Linked DNA regions of Homo sapiens. The protein of the gene in region 3 interacts with the protein of the main gene of each other region in a biochemical or structural test. Each region holds a gene or a part of one and is shown on either strand. Other genes may lie near its edges.

Region 1 (4,730 bases), on a different chromosome or scaffold from region 3:
GGCCTCTGTTCAGGTCAAACTACGATGTTCTTTATTCCCCCAACATATTCCTACTTTCTCCCTCATTTAAATTCCACCTGACTTTTAAGATTTGGTTCAAGCCAGGGGCGATGGCTCACGCCTGTAATCCCAGCACTTTGGGAGGCCAAGGCACGTGGATCACCTGAGGTCAAGAGTCCAAGACCAGCCTGGCCAACATGGTGAAACCCCATCTCTACGAAAAATACAAAAATTTAGCCGGGTGTGGTGGACGGCGCCTGTGATCCCAGCTATGCAGGAGGCTGAGGCAAGAGAATCGCTTGAACCTGGGAGGTGGAGGCTGCAGTGAGCCGAGATCGTGCCATTGCACTCCAGCTTGGGAAACAAGGGCAAAACTCCGTCTCAAAAAAAAAAAAAAAAAATTTTGATTCAAATAGTTTTTTACCCAGTCTTTCTTGAAGGGTCGAACAATTATTTTGTAGACTAAGGTTGTTAGCTAGGATTCAGAAATAGATTTCTGTTAACTCCTAATACTGTCTGTAAAATTTTATCTAAAGGTGCATTTTTCTAGACAAGTTCATAAAAGACTTCAAGAGGCTGTAGATGGTCTTGTCACTGAAAAACGGCAACGAATTATATTTATACTATTATTTATTGTATGCTGTTTTGTTTTTATTCCCCAAGAGTAGGGATTATACATTGTGTGGCAGACACACAGACGGTGTGTGTTTGGGGATGTTTGCTCCCTCAAAATCCTTCCTTAAGATGCGGTGCCTGTAATTCCAGCTACTCAACAGGCTGAGGCAGGAGGATAGCTTGAGGCCAGAGATCTGTCTGGATAACAAAATGAGGCCCCCCACCATTTCTATAAAACAAAACAAAAAAACCTTTCCTAGAAGAAACTAACATGCCCCTTGAAAAACTAAGATTAGCAACATTTCATAAAACCCACTTTTTTTTTTTTTTTTGAGACGGAGTTTCGCTCTTCTTGCCCAGGCTGGAGTGCAATGGCGCGATCTCAGCTCACTGCAACCTCCGCCTCCCGGGTTCAAGCAATTCTCCTGCCTCGGCCTCCGGAGTTGCTGGGATTACAGGTGTGCGCCACCACGCCCGACTAATTTTGTATTTTTAGTAGAAACGGGGTTTCTCCATGTTGGTCAGGCTGGTCTCGAACTCCCGACTTCAGATGATCCGCCCACCTCAGCCTCCCAAAGTGCTGGGATTACAGGTGTGAGCCACCGCGCCCAGCCGCGACCCACTTTTAATGATAGAAATACACATCGCTTTTTCAGATATACTAACTGGACTTAAAGCAAAGTTTAAAAACAATCATCGGCCGGGCGCGGTGGCTCACGCCTGTAATCCCAGTACTTTGGGAGGCCGAGGCGGGTGGATCAGAGGCGGGTACATCACGAGGTCAGAGTATCAAGACCATCCTGGCCAACATAGTGAAACCCCACCTCTACTAAAAATACAAAAAACAAAAACAAAAACAAAAACAAAAAAACTAGCTGGGTGTGGTGGCTCGTGTCTGTAATCCCAGCTACTCGGGAGGCTGAGACAGGAGAATCGCTTGAACCTGGAGGCGGAGGTTGCAGTGAGCCGAGATCGCGCCACCGCACTCCAGCTTGGCGACAGTGAGACTCCCTCTCCCTCTCAAAAAAAAAAAAAAAAAAAGAAAAAAAAATCGAGTATCACCAACCACACAGCAGAAATGGTTCAAAAAAGCTCAAAATCGAAGGTCCATTTACAAATTCTAGCGGTACTAAACCCTAAAGGCCGTAATTTTAGGTCTTTCTGCTTTTGCTTTCCGGTTACTTTTTTAAAGGCTGACCTACTTACTGAAGATTATGGGACAACCTGGCAACATTCGTACTGCACAAAAATGGTATCTGCCCGAGTTGGAAGAATTATTTCTTAACAAAAGAGCTATCTATCGGAAGCTTGGACATGCCCCCTGCAGTGAGAACCCTGGGGCCGTTCCATTTCTTCTGAAAAGATCCAGGCCCACAGGCAGCGACGACCCTGGCCAGATTTGCCGTGAGAGAAAAGTGAAAGTGGGGGGAGTCATTCTGTCCGTCCCGTGAAAGCACGGGAGTTAGTGACGGGATGCAGGCCGGGACTTGCGGCCACTAGCCGAGGGTCGGCCTCTCCCACGTCTCACTCGTGCCGGCGTTAGCCGTGCGCCCTGGAAGCCCCGGCGCTGCGCGCGGCTCTCCCGGGCGGGGAAAGCTGCAGCGCCGCGGAAGCTTTCCCTGCAGGTTAAAGGTCAGAGGCGCTGCGGTAAGCGCAGCTGGAAAGGGGGTTGTGTGCTCCAAGCCGCTCGCCGTCCGGCCCCGCGTCCCGCCGCCCCTGTCGCCCCCGCCTCTCCCGGGGCCCCGCGCATTTGGCGCCGCAGCTCCGCGCTCCCAGCCGAAGTCGAGCAGCCCCAAGCGGCGCTCCCAAACTGAACGGCTCCGCTGGCCGCAGGACGCCGGCCGGGGGATGCGCTGGGACCGCGTCCGTTGGCGGTTGGGGTGAAGGGCACCCCCTGGCCCCCGCCCCCGACGCGGTCGCTGGTGTCCCCACCCAGCGTTTCTTACCGGCGCTTTTGCGCCCTGCTGACTCCGGCGTCGGGCGCCGACGCGACAGTCCCGCGGCTGCCACTCGTGGATTGGGGGGCGCTCCGGGAAGAGAGGTTGAAGAAAGCCGACGGGATGTGGGATCGAGATTCACGGCGGAGAGAGCTTTCTGTGTTTGGGTATTTCTGGGGGGTCAGAGTTCGTGACCTCTTTCTCGGCTCGGCGGCGCGCTATCCCGCCAGCGCCTGCGCATTAGCAACGGGGAGAAGCGGCGAGAGGAGGTCGTGACGTTCCCAGGGTGGGGTGGAGGGATCGGAGGGCCGAGCAGCGGCTCTGTGAGTCCACTGCCCCCTTTTGGCTTGGAGGCAGAGTGCCCCGCCAGAGCTACGCGTTCCCAGCCAGGTAATTTTTGAAGCCACGTGCAAAGGTTTAAGCATCGTTTGCCAAAGGTGGGCATTAGGGGAGGTTTTGAGTCAACGTTTTAGATTTGAGTAATAAATAACCCTCTGGGTCTTAGGCATATCTGTTTCTAATTTCTGGAAAACTGGGCTCTGGGGTAGAGTCCAATCATATTTAAACTTTTTTTTTTTTGTATTACACTTTAAGTTCTAGAGTACATGTACACAACGTGCAGGTTCGTTACATATGTATACATGTGCCATGTTGGTGTGCTGCACCCATTAACTCGTCATTTACATTAGTAAGCTTTATATATAATGACAAGCTGAGGCCGACTCATGCAAATGGTAAGGCAAAGTTTCACTTATAAACTGTTGTGAGTAAAGAGACATAATGGCTAAACAGGGCAAGAATATAATCACTAGAGACTGGGCACGGTAGCTCACGCCTGTAATCCCAGCAAGTTGGGAGGCCGAGGCGGACGGATCACTTGAGCCCGGTTGTTTGAGGCCAGCCTGGCCAACATGGCGAAAACCCGTCTCTACAAAAAAATTAGCCAGTCCTGGTGGCGCGTGCCTGTCGTCCCAATTACTTGGAGGCTGAGGTGGGAGGATCACCTGAGTCAAGACGGCAGTGAGCCAAGATCACACCACCGCACTCCAGCCTGGGTGACACAATGAGTCTTTCTCTCTCTCTCTATATATACACACACACATATATATGTATATTCCACATCCTCTCTATAATATATATATTATTATATATTGAGGATTATCCTCAATGGCCGTTTTTTGTCTGTTTTGCTCAGTGATGTATTACCAAGCACATAGGACAATGCCTGCTATTCAATAATGATGTATGAAATGAAAGCCAGGCAAGTGGCTGCTGGGAGGCCAAGGAAAGATCACTTGGGGCCAGCAGTTGGAGACCGGCTTGGGCAAGATAACAAAACCCTGCCTCCACAAAAAAAATTTTTCAAATTGTGAAATGAAGAGACATTGGTGGAACATCGCATTCTGACAGTGGCCACCTGTAGTGGCAAGGTGTGGCAGGAATAACTGCCCTGTGTGCAAAGTACTCTGCGCTTTAGATTTTGAAGCATTCTTGAAATTTCTAGTTTTTTTTTAAATCTCCTTTGTTTTGTCATGAAATTTCTATTTTATCTAGCTTAGGTCGGCACTGTAGGAAAGCAGCCACAAACTCAGGGCAGAAATCCAAGGAAGGAAAAACAAACGTTTGCTGGGAATGAGAACATCTCTGTTATTTCTCTCTGGAACTAGGCAGACGGACAGAGATCAAGGCATGAAACAATCCCTAACAAGTAAAAATATGCTTTATCCCTCATTAAAAATCCACCTCTGCTGAGCACAGTGGCTTCTGCCCCCAGAGCCTTGGGAGGCTGAGGTAGGAGGCTTGCTTGATGCCAGGAGTTTGAGACCAGCCTGGGCAACATAGTGAGACTCCATCTCTTAAAAAAAAAAGAAAAAAAAAAGGCATGGTGGTGCAGGCCTGTATTCCTAGTTACTGAGGAGGCTGAGGTGGGAGGATTGCTTAAGCCCAGGAGTCTGGTCCAGTGTTGGCACCATTGCATTCCAGCCTGGGCGAGAGTGAAACTTTTTTTTTTTTCCAACCTCTACCTTTTAGCATTATTTGTTGTGTATTTGGTTTGGTTTTAAGGGAGACCCCTGCCAATACCATAAGCTGGTCCCAAAGGTGAAAATTATGAAAGTATAGTCACGTCAGGGATATGTTCTGAGAAATGAGTCCTTAGGCAATTTCATTTTACTCTCA
Region 2 (4,767 bases), on a different chromosome or scaffold from region 3:
TCCTGATCTCAGGTGGTTCTCCCACTTTGGCCTCCCAAATTACAGACGTGAGCCACCGGCCCAGCTGTATTTCTGTGTTTAAACAGTAGAGTGAAATCAACTATGAACGCAGAATGATGGGAAAGATGACGATAAGGGTATTTCAATTTTGTCATTTTACGAAACTACTTGGAGTTTTGATTTGTATTTACAGTTTTTAAAAGAGTAAAACAGTGTGAACTGTGAATGGTAATGATTTTGTTTGGTAAGTGCAAATTTTAATTCATACATGAAAAATATTTGTTTTGTTTCATGATTATTACTGAAAATAATTTTGTACTATGAAGGAAGAGGGGTGTTAAAAATGATCCACTGTGGATGTAAATTATTCTAGGCATGCTTCTGACTAAAACATTAGCATTTCCACAAGAATCCCAAAAAATAAAACAAAATTTAAAAGATCCCTTCTGTTTCTTTTCCTCCAAGTTTCCAGACCCCCATCTCCACCCTGGCCACCTCTTCCTGCCATAAATAATCAAATCCCACACTTTCATCTTCACCTTCCGTTTCCATTGCCTCTTCCGATGGGACAGCACCCGTGGGGAATCTCCTCCATGCTCACAATCCCCGTCTTGCCACTATATCAAGTCACACTTCTTCCTCACCAATCGCCCATTCTGGAACCTCTGCTATCCAGCTAGATCACTTTGAGGTTTGGACAACTACTGGTGGAGGTAATGGGGGCCCCAGACAGCCCTTGACATCACCTCTTTTATCTTTGCCAAATTCTACAAACAAAGCCCATGTCTTTCTGTCCCCCGCCCCCATGGCTGGCACATAGTAGATGTCCCCAAATCTTGGTGATGTGAACTTGTGTGTCTCACCCTTCACAGACATCACCATTTCCCGTTGCACAGAAGGCTCCACTCATACCAGGCGCTTTGGCTCCCAGAATAAGCAGGCTATCATGCTATGTCCGACATCTAGGCGTTGGTACGTACTGTTCCCTTGGCCTGGAACATTCTGCCCTCTCTCACCCTCTCTTTTCTTGGCTTTCTGAAATGGCACCTCCATCAGAAAGTGTCCCTCACTCTTGGTCTGAGCAAGGGACCTTGCCTGGTATTCCTGAACTTCCACCTGTTTTCCCTCTGTTTTCTCCCTCTCTGGGCCTTGTCCTCAGGTCAGTGTTGTGCCTCCAGCTCCTGCAGAGGCGAACTCAGAGGCGGCCGAATGAAACCAAATGGATTTGGCTTGACCCCATCATCTAGCGGTGCCCAGCAAGCGCTGGCACATAGTAGGTCCAGCCTGCCCGGACTCGCCCACCACGGGCCCCCTTCCAGAGCCGGGAGGCAGGCCAAGGGAGGCCCCTTATTGCCAAGAGCAAACAGGCCGCCCAGGGAAGTTTTGCTCTGGGTCACACCCACCTCTGGGTGGCTGCCAATCTGCCTGCCAGAAACCGCAGGCTGGGCCGCGGCTACCCAGAGTCAGGGCCACGGAGCTTAGGAGACCTTGGGTCAGCTCTGCAAAGGGGTTGTTTACTGAATGCTTCTGGTATCTGCAGCCCCGCTGGGGTTCGGACAGGGGGTCTGGAATAGGGCTTCACAACTACAGCAGGGCTAGGACCCTCTTGGGCTGGAAGGAGCTGGAGAGGCCTCTGCAAGCTGTCACAGGCTCTTGGTGCTGGCACTGGCTCAGGCTTTCACACACACACACGCGCACACACACACACACACACACACGGACAGGCACCCCCTTGGTGGCCTTCACAGTTTCACCTTCAGGTAAATGGGCTCATCCTTTGAGCCATGAGGATGGGAAGCGAAGCAAGGAATGAAAAAGCTAGTGTGTTTGTGTGTGTGTGTGTGTGTGTGTGTGTGTGTGAGCGCGCGCGCGCGCGCGCGTGTGTACTCGTGCGTGTGCCTGTGTGTGCCTGGGAGTGACCTCACAGCTGCCGGAACATAAAGACTCACAGGTCCGCCTCCCAGGCTCAAAGCTGGCTCTGCAGGGGACATGAGAGGCACACCGAAGACCCACCTCCTGGCCTTCTCCCTCCTCTGCCTCCTCTCAAAGGTAAGGAGGCCCGGGCCCTGGAATGCACTGCTGACTATTTGGGTGTGGAGGGGGTGGGGATGTAAAATCGCAGCCAAGGACCCCCTTGGCAGAATTCCTCCAGGGCCCCACATTGGGCACAGTCTGGCCCCCATGCCTAAGCAGGGCTTCTCTCCCTGGAACTCAGAGCTGCCTCCGGCCAGCCCTGCTGTGTGACCTCAGATATGTGTCTTGCCTTCTCTGGGCCTCAGCATCTTCCCAGGTGAAGGGTATACAGTTTGTGAGGCCTCTGTGAAGACCATTCATGATCATTCATCAAACTTACCAGGCAAATTGAAGAGGACTTTAATGTATCCTCATTATGAATGGGGGCACTCAAGACATGACATGCTTGGCCTAACTCTGAGCCAGCATTTGGATGGATGCCTAGCTGATTGGAAGGTTCATTCTGCAAGGGCATCAATGCTGTTGGACTCTTAGGCAGTGAGTGACCCGCCCGCCCTAGCTAGAGGGGAACAGGAGACACCTCTGTGGAGTAATGGCCTTATCCCTGAATGCTGCATGGGACATTCACCAAAGAGCCTGTGGGACATCTACCTTGTCTAACATGCACAACAATCCCATAAGGAATTTTCAGTTAAGTGAGGCTCAGAAAGGGTAAGCAACTTGCAACCCCAGTTTTCAGTCAAGTGAGGCTCAGAAAGGGTAAGCAACTTGCCCAAAGCCACACAGCAAAGAAAGGTCAGAGCAATAGAGGAGAGCCATGGTGGAGCCCAGAATGACATGGATGTAGGGGGAGAAGCACTCCAGTCTGTGCCTCCCCAAGCCCAAACTGGACCAAGGCCACAGCTGCTAAGCCTTGTCATCCCCTCGGCAAATGCTGAGTTCCCAGAGCCATGGAATCGGCCCCACCACAAGCCACGATCTCACTGTATTTTCACGCTCCTTTGAGGAGCACGGGCAGGAGCTTCTCTCCCTCAGGCTCCAAGTCTTCGTGCCTGGGAAGCCTGAGAACCACGCTGGCATCCTGTCCTGCTGTTTGTTCTTCCAAAGGGGATGGGTAGGGCATGATGCCAGTGTGGGTGGCTTGGGTAGTTGGAATAGGGGACTTGGGGCTCTAGGAGGGAGAAGGGGCCCAGGATTATACGAGAACAAAGTAAAGCTGTCCTAGACTTGCCATTAGGGTGAGACTTACGGGACCATTCTTCCCTGGTCCCAGGAAGCAGGGACTGCACAGAAACACAGGGACTTAGTCACCACAACATGGAAAGCCACAGCAACCCTCAGAGGGAGAACTGTAAGTCTTCCAGGCTGGCCGTTGGCTCCGGGGCTCCTGGCTGTGGACCGGGGCAGGAGGCAGACACCTGGACACAAGCAAAATCACATTGATCAAGGACTGGCCAGAACCTCATTTAATCTCCATCATCACTCAGAAACAGGTTGTCTCTACTCCAGTTTACAGAGGAGAAAACTGAGCTTCACCTCCACCTTCCAAAGCCGTTTGTCCACATGTTCAGTCACGTAGCAAGTCACTGGCAGAACTTGAATCTCAACTCTTGCCCAAAAAACTCCATGCCCAGTACTCCTGCCCCAGATATCATGAGCCTTGCCCCCCACCACCAGATATCACAGCAAGGCCCTGGGGAAACTGAGGCACAATGGGACAACTTGAGTTTGGGCCTTGGATGTCAACTTGAACTTGGATGTCAATCCTGATTCTGTCTCTTACTGGCTGTGTTACTACACGGTTTGAGCTCCAGTTTTCTCATCTTTAAAATGGGCATAATGATGGCACCTCACATTGGAGGGGTAAATGAGACAACAGCACTTGGCACATGACATACATATGGTATCACATGAGATAATTGTACACTAGAATAGTTGATATCATTAATAGCCTCTCCTGGGTATCGGGGCCTACAGAGTCCTGCCCCCTGACAAGCATGGCCAGTAGAGGGGTCCACAGTGGGAGCCAAGGTGCACAGCTGCTGGTCTATTTCCTGGCACTCCTGTTTTCAGGTGGGAGGGACCTGAGAGTCATTTCTGACAGTCCTCCCTCCATTGCCCACAAGCCAAGGGAGCTGAACCTCTGACTTAGAAGGGAACCCAAAAGCCTAGACCGTTTCTATGTGAATCACCTGTGGATTTATGAAAATGCAGATTCGGGCTGGGCGTGGTGGCTCATGCCTGTAATCCCAGCACTTTGGGAGGCCGAGGTGGGTGGATCATGAGGTCAGGAGTTTGAGACCAGCCTGGCCAGCATGGTGAAACCCCGTCTCTACTAAAAATACAAAAAATTAGCTGGGCATGGTGGCATGCACCTGTAATCCTAGCTACTTGGGAGGCTGAGGCCTCCCAAGAATTGCTTGAACCTGGGAGGCGAAGGTTGCAGTGAGTCGAGATCGTGCCACTGCACTCCAGCCTAGGTGACAGAGCAAGACTCCATCTCAAAAAAGAAAAAAAAAAAAAAGAAAGAAAAAGAAAAGAAAATGCAGATTCGGATTTATTATATAAAAATTCAGCTTCGGATTTATAGAGGGGCTCCAGATGCTGCCTCTCTGACAAGCTCCTAGATGACGCTGCTGCTGCTAGTTCAGACCACACCTTGAGGGGCGAGGCTAGGCCATCGTCTCTAGAATCTGAACAGCCTGCAGCGATGGGATCCACTCCCTTGTGAGGCAGCCAGACACCTAGCTCCGTGTGTCCATCTGCTACTCAGTGCTGTCTCAGTGGGGGCTG
Region 3 (4,490 bases):
TTTTCTGAGGAAGTAAAATTTGAGTTGAGACCTGGAGACTAAGAAGGAGTGAGTCATAAGAGGAGCAGAGAGAAGCCTGACCCAAGCATGGACAAAGGCCCACAAAAGGCTCTGAGGGCTGGGCCCAGTGGCACACACCTATAATCCCAACACTTCCAGAGGCCAAGGTGGGAGAATCGCCTGAGGCTAGGAGTTTGAGGCCAGCCTGGGCAACATAGTGAGAGCCATCTCTACAGAAAATAAAAAACAAAATCAGCTGGGCATGATGGTGCATGCCTATAGTCCTAGCTACTCAGGAAGCTGAGGCAGGAGGATCACTTGAGCCTAGGAGTTTGAGGTTACAGTGAACTATGATTGTGCCACTGGACTTCAGTCTGTTGAGGTGAGGTCCGAGAAGCTGGCCATGGTGAGATTGTGCAGAGCCTTTAAACCCTGGTAAGGAGTTTGAATTATATTCCAAAGATGATGGGAAACCATTGAAGGATTTTAAGCAGGAAAGTGACATGATCCAATTTGTGTTTGAAAGTGACAATTCTGACTGCTGAATAGAGAAAGGTTTGGGTAGGGGGGATGGAGATGGAAGTAGAAAGACCAGTTAGGAAGCCATGGTGTTGGTTAGGTGCCCAGACTAAGGTGGAGGGGGTGGCAATGGAGAGAAGTAGATGATCTGAGAGGTGTGTGTGTGTGTGTGTGTATATATATATATATACACACACACACACACATATATATGTTTTTTTTTTTCTTTTTTGAGATGGAGTCTTGCTCTGTCACCCAGGCTGGAGTGCAGTGGCACGATCTTGGCTCAGTGCAAGCTCTGCCTCCTGGGTTCAAGCATTTCTCCTGCCTCAGCCTCCTGAGTAGCTGGGACTACTACAAAGGCGTGAGCACCGCGCCGGGCGTGAGTTATATTTTCAAGGCTAGAATTGACAGAACTTGGGTTGATGAGAATAGTTGATTAGCAGGCAGGGTGCCAGGGAGGGTGTTGAGCAGAACAGAGGGGGGACTGTGCTTTATTTTAAAATTTTTATTGAGACACAGCATATAAAGTATACCCAAATCTTAAGGGTATAACATAATGAATTTCACTATCAAGATAAAGATTTAGAACATTTATAGTTTTCTTGTGCTCCTTTCAGGCAATACCTAAAGGTATTTACCTTGTCTTTTGATAACCTCCTCCACATCTTCCTCTGGTTCCTTTTAACAGGGAATGCGTTGAATATGTCAAGAGCTTCAATATCCCTCTACTCGTGCTGGGTGGTGGTGGTTATACTGTCCGAAATGTTGCCCGCTGCTGGTGAGCACTCTCCTGATTTCCTCCCCTGTTGTCCAGTGTGAGCTAGGGTGTCCCTCAGATATGGCCACATGGGTCCTTCAGCCCACTTGGTCAGCCTGCTCCCCTCTGCTGGTTGGTTTCAGGACATATGAGACATCGCTGCTGGTAGAAGAGGCCATTAGTGAGGAGCTTCCCTATAGTGGTAAGGACCACCCCACAACACCCCCATAACAGGAAGGCCATTCTCACCAGATTCCAGAATGACCTGGTTTGAAGGCACATGGGAAATTTTACACTCTCAGAGCTCTGCAGACTAAACCCCTGGGCTCAGAGCAGGGAAGAGATTGGGCAGCTATTATGTAGGTGCTCTGGATGGGAAGGAAAAAGATTGGGAAGTCTTGTTAGCTGCCTTTCTCAGTCTGAGCCATACTTTCTCCTCTCCTCCCCAAGAATACTTCGAGTACTTTGCCCCAGACTTCACACTTCATCCAGATGTCAGCACCCGCATCGAGAATCAGAACTCACGCCAGGTCAGCAGCTCAGAAAAGCTGAGCACAAACTTCTCCTGAAAGGTGGAGCCCAGGAGAGGTCAAAGATGTGGGAAGTAGGAAAAACCAAAGAGAAGGAAGTTCTAAGCCATCACAGTCACTGTTATTGACTAGGAGGCAGTCCAGTTTAAAGTAGAGGCAGTTGGGGTTGGTGGGGAGGGAGAGCTATCAGTTGGGGGACCTGAACTAGAGGTACCACTGAGATGAAAACCAGTATGGTAGGGGTAAAAGGCAGCTAGGAGATTCCATGTCCTGGGAATCTCTGGAAACTGCTCACTCTGTATTCCTCATTTCCAACCAGTATCTGGACCAGATCCGCCAGACAATCTTTGAAAACCTGAAGATGCTGAACCATGCACCTAGTGTCCAGATTCATGACGTGCCTGCAGACCTCCTGACCTATGACAGGACTGATGAGGCTGATGCAGAGGAGAGGGGTCCTGAGGAGAACTATAGCAGGTCTGGGAGCAGGGACTTCAGCCTACTTTCAATAGGCTTGCTGGGGAGGTTTAAAAGGGAAAAAGTAAATGGGAAGGTATTAGTTTAATTGCCTCTGGCTTACCTCCTTTAGTCTGCTACAATTTCCTCACTCTTTTCTTTGTTATTTTTAATGACAAAAGTAACACGTATTTATTGCAAAATTTTAAAACAGCACCAAAATATGGTGTTGGCGTTCACACAATCCCAGACCTATTCCACAGGAGTAACCACTGTTAATAGTTTTTATTGTTTTGGATAGACCTTTTTCTATAGATTGCAAATATACTATTCTGTATGTACATATAAACAAACACATATACACTCATTTACAGTTTGTGTGGTTTTTGGTTTTTCGTAAATACAAATAGGGTCATTCTACGTATGCTGCTTTACATCATATAGCTGTTTTCAGCTAGCTAATATAGATCTGCTTCAGTATTTTATCAGCTGTATAATAATTTACTATGTGGATAGATTATTTTCCATTTTTTTGGTATTACAATAATAATGTGGCAATGAACCCCCTTACATTATACATCTTTGCATTCTTGTTTGAGTGGGTTAGATAGTAGAATGGTTGCTGCTAGGTCAAAGGCTGTGTGCATTAATTTTTTTTTTTTTTTTTTTTTTGAGACAGGGTCTCATTCTGTCACCCAGGCTGGAGTACAGTGGCATGATTATAGCTCACTGCAATCTTGAACTCCTGGGTTCAAGCGATCCTCCTGCCTCAGCCCCTCGAGTAGCTGGAATCATAGGTGTGCACCACGACACCTGGCTAATTTTTTTTTTTTTTTTTTTTTTTTTTTTTTTTTTTGGTAGAGACGGAGTCTTGCCTTGTTGCCCAGGCTGGTCTCAAACTCCTGGGCTCAAATGTCCTCCTGCCCCAGCCTTCCAAAGTGCTGGGATTATAGGCGTGAGCCACTGAGCCTGGCCTAAAATTTTTTATATTTGCTGCCAAATTGCCGTCCAGAAAGTCTGTAGCACCCTATAGTCTTGCCAGCATTTTTCTCAGTCTTTCCAGGTCTTGAGCTGGACAGGTCACTGCCTGCGTAATACTCTCTAAGGCTCTTTGATTTCTTTGCTCTGTTAATTTTTTCGGGTGGGATAATTGCATTGTGGTTATGTTTTTTTTTTTTTTTTAAAAGTCTTTATCTTTCTGAGATACATACAAAATATTTGTAGATGGAATGAATTAGGGGGGAAAAAGGATAGGATGGAATTTTTTTTTAATCCCAAAACTTTGCTGAAAAATGAAAGGGAAAGACAACAGAACCAAGAAGTGCAGAAACAGATGCACTTAATGGGGAACAGATTTCCTTACATGACTGAGGGATAACCACAGCTGGACACTTGTGGGACACGCTGTCTTGCTCCCACGCAGGGTTAGAGGTTTGAGCCGGCTCTGCTGCAGAGCCTGATGGGCTTCTCAGCCCCTTCTAGAATCTGCTTCTGTCTTAGAATTCAGGCCTCCGAATCTCTCCTCTGGACCTGGGCTTTACTGCTCTGACTCTTGGGGATCTCTGCAACTCTCTTCCTCCAAGGATATCCCCCGATCCCTTCTGAGTGAGGAAGTGTCTGAACATCTGGAAGTGTCTGGCTTCAGGGCTTCCAGGACTATTGGAAATTGCTTTTCATTGTCTGGTTTGGTTTGGTAAAACCTGTTTTTAAGTTCTTCCTTTTGGGTTTTTTATCAATAGCTCCAGGCTGGCATCTGGACCTAGTCTCTGCATTATAATAATACCAAGCCCTGTCACAGCCAGCAGAAGCCTCAGGCCTCTTCCTGTTCCTAAGCCCTACCTCTCTGTCAGGCCACCCACTGAGTTTCTGTTCTTCTTTGATGCCTATAGCTCCAGCTTGCATATGACTTGCAGAGTAGAAATAGGAAGAGTTACCACTTTTTGTAGGTTTGCCAAGCACCAGACACTACTAAGTGCTATCTATTACAACATATATATGATCATTCTGTTGCCATCAGACAACTCTGATGGCTCTTATTTTCAGATTAACACGGGAGGAATCTAAGGCTCAGAGAGTCTAAGTAACTTTCTTTCTTTCTTTTTTTTGAGACGGAGTTTCGCTCTTTTTGCCCAGGCTGGAGTGCAATGGCATGATCTCAGCTCACCACAACCTCTGCCTCCCGGGTTCAAGCGATTCTCCTGCCTTAGCCTCCCAAGTAGCTGGAT
Region 4 (4,128 bases), on a different chromosome or scaffold from region 3:
ATTCGTACCAAACTATTTACTAAGATATGGTTTAATAAGAAGGACAAGACACCAAACATCAAAAGAGCTTCAGAGAGACATCTCTTTAGCAATACATTCAAAATTTTGTTACTTATGTTTTCAAAGTAACATACATCTTCTGGCTTACATGCATTTAAAGGACACACGTTAGGTTATCTAGGTTATGTAGCAGAGTCATTCACGGAGAATTTACCAAGTCATCTGGGGGAAATGGAGCAAAAGCAGCTATGCGTCATCACTCAACAGCATAACCTGCAAATCCAATTCACCCAGAAGAAAGAGAGCAAAACCACCACCCAGTTCTAGTGAAATAGTTTAAATGCACAATCCTTTGTCCTGATAAAAAAGTCTTGGCTGGGCAAGGTGGCTCGCGCCTGTAATCCGAGCACTTTGGAGGCCAAGGCTGGCGGATCACTTGAGGTCAGAAGTCTGAGACTAGCCTGGCCAACATGGTGAAACCCCGTTTCTACTAAAAATACAAAAATTAGCCAAGCATGGTGGTGCAGGCCTGTAATCCCAGCTACTCGGGAGGCTGAGGCAGGAGAACTGCTTGAGCCCGGGAGGCGGAGGTTGCAGAGATCGCGCAACCTCACTCCACCCTGGGTGACAGAGCAAGTCTCTGTCTTTAAAAAAAAAAAAAAGAAGAAGAAGAAAGAAGAAGTCTTAAGGACTTGCAGGACCACCCCACCCTTTTACCTTCTGTGGCTGGAACTTCCAACTGGCTTGGTTCAGCTGATTCTAAAGAGAAACACAGAGACTGATTTCCACATTGTTCAACAGCTGCTTTATACTATGTAAAGAACCCAGGAGGAGGAAGAGGAGAAAAGCCCTCTAGACTCTGTACAAACACAGGTGCATGATGAAACAATGCTCACGGTCTTGAGATGGAGCACACGATTATCCAAGTGTACTTTCAAATTTCTGTTTTTCAAATGTGGTCCTAAGTTCACATATGCAACTGAAGTTTGAAAGAGCAGAGTCTTAACATAGCTCTACCATGAAAACAAGCTCCTTAGTTATGCTTTCTCCCTTATCCTTCTGTTTACTCCCTTTAATAAAAGCTTTTCATTACTTTTTTTGTTTTTCTTCGTATGTTTGTTTTTTTGAGACAGAATCTCCTTTCTGTTGCCCAGGCTGGAGTGCAGTGGCACGATCTTGGCTCACTGCGACCTCCGCCTCCCAGGCTCAAGCGGTTCTCCTGCCTCAGCCTCCTGAGTAGCCGGCACACGCCACCACGTCTGGCTAGTTTTTGTATTCTTAGTAGAGACGGGGTTGCACCATGTTGGCCAGGCTGGTCTCGAACTCCTGATCTCAAGTGATCTACCCTTCTCAGCCTTCCAAAGTGCTGGGATAACAGGCGTGAGCCACCGCGCCCAGTCTCATTACTTTCAATGACTCACACAGCACCAGGCCATTCCACTTGTTTTTTAAGGAATTTTTTAAGAGCACAATGTGTACATTTCTACTGAAGAACATTTTGCTCACTGACTTATGGCAGACATTAGAAATGGATGGCAGAGTCAGGTTAAAGTGACGGCCCTCTTGCTCTGCCATTTCATCCTACCCATTAATCCTGGGGTTCCTGATGTTAGGCCTGAGCTGGGATAGGGGGTGCAAATGGTCTGCAGCCCCCAGTTCTCAATCAGGACCCACAGCTTGAATTTATGTTTTGATCAGCTGTCAAACCCAGGAGTGAAAACCACAGAGAAGCATGTGTGTGCTGTGTAACTGAGTCCCCTCAGGGCAGGTGACTGAGAGCCAAAGCCACACGCAGGCACGCCATTGTGCCACTGTGCAGGCAGGAGTAGCTCCGGGCCCTCCCCTGCCTCGCTCACCTTGTATCACGGGGCCTTCTGACTCACTCTGATCAACCAGCTCTGAAAATGAAGCAGATTGGTTTAAATAATGTAAGGATGTGTTGTTCCCTTGGAAAAGCATTTTAACATACATTTGCTGTTTCCCTCAAGATGAGAAGGAAACAAACCTCAGAGTTCTGATATGTCCCTCAGAATCACTAATTCACAGTAATTACCATAAAACTCTATACCACACTACCGCACAAGAACAGGAACAAAAGAGAACATTTTATTTATTTATTTATTGGGACAGAGTTTTGCTCTTGTTGCCCAGGCTGGAGTGCAATGGCACGATCTCAGCTCACTGCAACCTCCACCTCTAGGATTCAAGCAACTCTCCTGCCTCAGCCTCCTGAGTAGCTGGGATTACAGGCACGTGCCACCACACCCAGCTGATTTTTGTATTTTTAGTAGAGACAGGCTTTCACCATGTTGGACGGGCTGGTCTCCAACTCCCAACCTCAACTGATCCGCCTGCCTCAGCCTCCCAAACTGCTGGGATTACAGGCGTGAGCCACCACGCCTGGCCTCACTTTTATACATTTTTAATAATAAAGTTAAGAAAACAAAACACACTCGCAAAATTAAGTTTGGCTCAAAATACTATTGAAAATGACATCAACGTTAAGGAATTGAAAGGACATTTGTTCACTCGCTCAGCAATATTTGAGAGCCCCATGTGTGCCAGGCACTGTGCTGAAATACTAACAGAAGCAGGCACATTGTGACTTACTTTGTAACGAAATCCAAGCACAGTAATTATAACAGTCATAAAAGCAGTAATAAATATAGATTGTATTCGCTGAGCACATACTGTAGGCTAAACACATACTAGAGGCTAGACACTGTTCTAGGTTAGGGGGATGCAAACTCTTTTCTTGCAGAGCCAATTAGTAAATATTTTAGGTTTTGCAGGCACACACTTGCTGCTGCCATCTCTCAGTTCTGCCATAAACAAATGGACACGATGGTGGTTTCAATAAAACTTTATGCATACACGTCGGCAGGAGCTTGCTGACACCTGTTCCAGATGCTTTCCATCTACTGGAACGACTCCCCCAAAATCGGTGCTATTATTACCATTTTATGATTAAGTGCATCGAGGATAGGAAGTTAAGAAGCTTGAATAATTTTACAACTAGGAAGTGCCTGGTGTTTTTACTGAGGGCTAAAACAAGTATTTGGCCTGGTTACTGACATAGGTGAAGTAACGTGATATACGTTAAGCATGTATACACACTCACACGCACACACGTCAGACCCCAGGAAAAAACAAAAACAAAACACTTCACAAAATACTCACGGTTATTAATCACAAGTCCTGGAAATGGTCTAAAGAGAGAAACAAATTGTAAAGTATAACAATTTATTTTCACTCTGTAAGAATTTACAGGTATAACTGTTTATTCAACTCATATCTAGCCCACGTCATTTACGTACTACAATGAGAAGTATTATCCGTGACCTTATAAGCTTATGGAAGAGATAGATACGTATCAATAATAAGAACACTGTTAGAAAGTGTTAAGCTACTAGTAAATGGAGGAAAAACAAAAAATAGAAACGCAGAGCAGGGAACAGAGTGATTCTAAGTTTAACATACGGAAGAACGGAAGGGGCTTTTTGCCTAACTCCTGGGAGTGATATGGAGAATGACGGTGGGTGAAGTGGAACCAAAATATGAGATTTTGAGGGAAAGAAGATTGGAAGAAGACGAGTGTATGAGAAGCCTCAAGAGGATTTATTATGAGATTTCTGAGTGCCAGTTCCAAGAGACCTGAACTAGAGACAGTGGCAATCTGATGATGAAATGATTGGGTAGGTTGAGTCGTAGCTGTTTCTGGGGGGCTGGAAGACAAAGGGGAAGATAACCTGGGGTTGGTGCTCAGGTGGGCATCTCTTACAGTGACAAGGACGTGGGAAGGAATGTGGCACTCACAATGGTGTCAGAGGTGAGTACAATCATCATGCCTGCTCTACGGGAAGGAGCTGACACTCTCAGTGGGAACAACGATCAATCTCATTTACAGACAAAGAACAGAGTGACCTGGCTAACAAATGGCTGATGCAAGGTTGAATCCGTCTGACCCGAAGCCTGTGACAAGGCGCCCTAAGACAGAGGTTGACAAAGTTCTTTTTTTCTTGTGATGGAGTCTCACTCTGTCGTCCAGGCTGGAGTGCAGTGGCATGATCTTGGCTCATTGCAACCTCCACCTCCTGGGTTCAAGCGACTATCCTGCCTCAGCCTCCC

The links.
Region 1: the proteins of HDAC3 (region 3) and NR2C1 form a complex in vitro, tested with the Homo sapiens proteins (4 studies listed by BioGRID).
Region 2: the proteins of HDAC3 (region 3) and CCN5 form a complex in vitro, tested with the Homo sapiens proteins (one study listed by BioGRID).
Region 4: the proteins of HDAC3 (region 3) and GTF2I form a complex in vitro, tested with the Homo sapiens proteins (2 studies listed by BioGRID).

The regions. Positions count from the first base shown.
Region 1 is NC_000012.12:95,070,819-95,075,548, forward strand, and holds the start of NR2C1 (nuclear receptor subfamily 2 group C member 1), read right to left. Parts: upstream 2,801-4,730; 5' UTR 2,562-2,800; intron 1-2,561. UniProt on the Homo sapiens protein: Orphan nuclear receptor. Binds the IR7 element in the promoter of its own gene in an autoregulatory negative feedback mechanism. Primarily repressor of a broad range of genes.
Region 2 is NC_000020.11:44,713,402-44,718,168, forward strand, and holds the start of CCN5 (CCN family member 5 isoform 1 precursor), read left to right. Parts: upstream 1-1,967; 5' UTR 1,968-1,989; coding exon 1,990-2,049; intron 2,050-3,223; exon of another isoform or gene 3,224-3,392; intron 3,393-4,767.
Region 3 is NC_000005.10:141,623,004-141,627,493, reverse strand, and holds part of HDAC3 (histone deacetylase 3), read left to right. Parts: intron 1-1,210; coding exon 1,211-1,300; intron 1,301-1,422; coding exon 1,423-1,481; intron 1,482-1,729; coding exon 1,730-1,809; intron 1,810-2,128; coding exon 2,129-2,286; coding exon of another isoform or gene 2,287-2,374; exon of another isoform or gene 2,375-2,632; intron 2,633-4,490. UniProt on the Homo sapiens protein: Histone deacetylase that catalyzes the deacetylation of lysine residues on the N-terminal part of the core histones (H2A, H2B, H3 and H4), and some other non-histone substrates.
Region 4 is NC_000007.14:74,754,590-74,758,717, reverse strand, and holds part of GTF2I (general transcription factor II-I), read right to left. Parts: intron 3,210-4,128; coding exon 3,181-3,209; intron 1,899-3,180; coding exon 1,857-1,898; intron 760-1,856; coding exon 718-759; intron 1-717. UniProt on the Homo sapiens protein: Interacts with the basal transcription machinery by coordinating the formation of a multiprotein complex at the C-FOS promoter, and linking specific signal responsive activator complexes.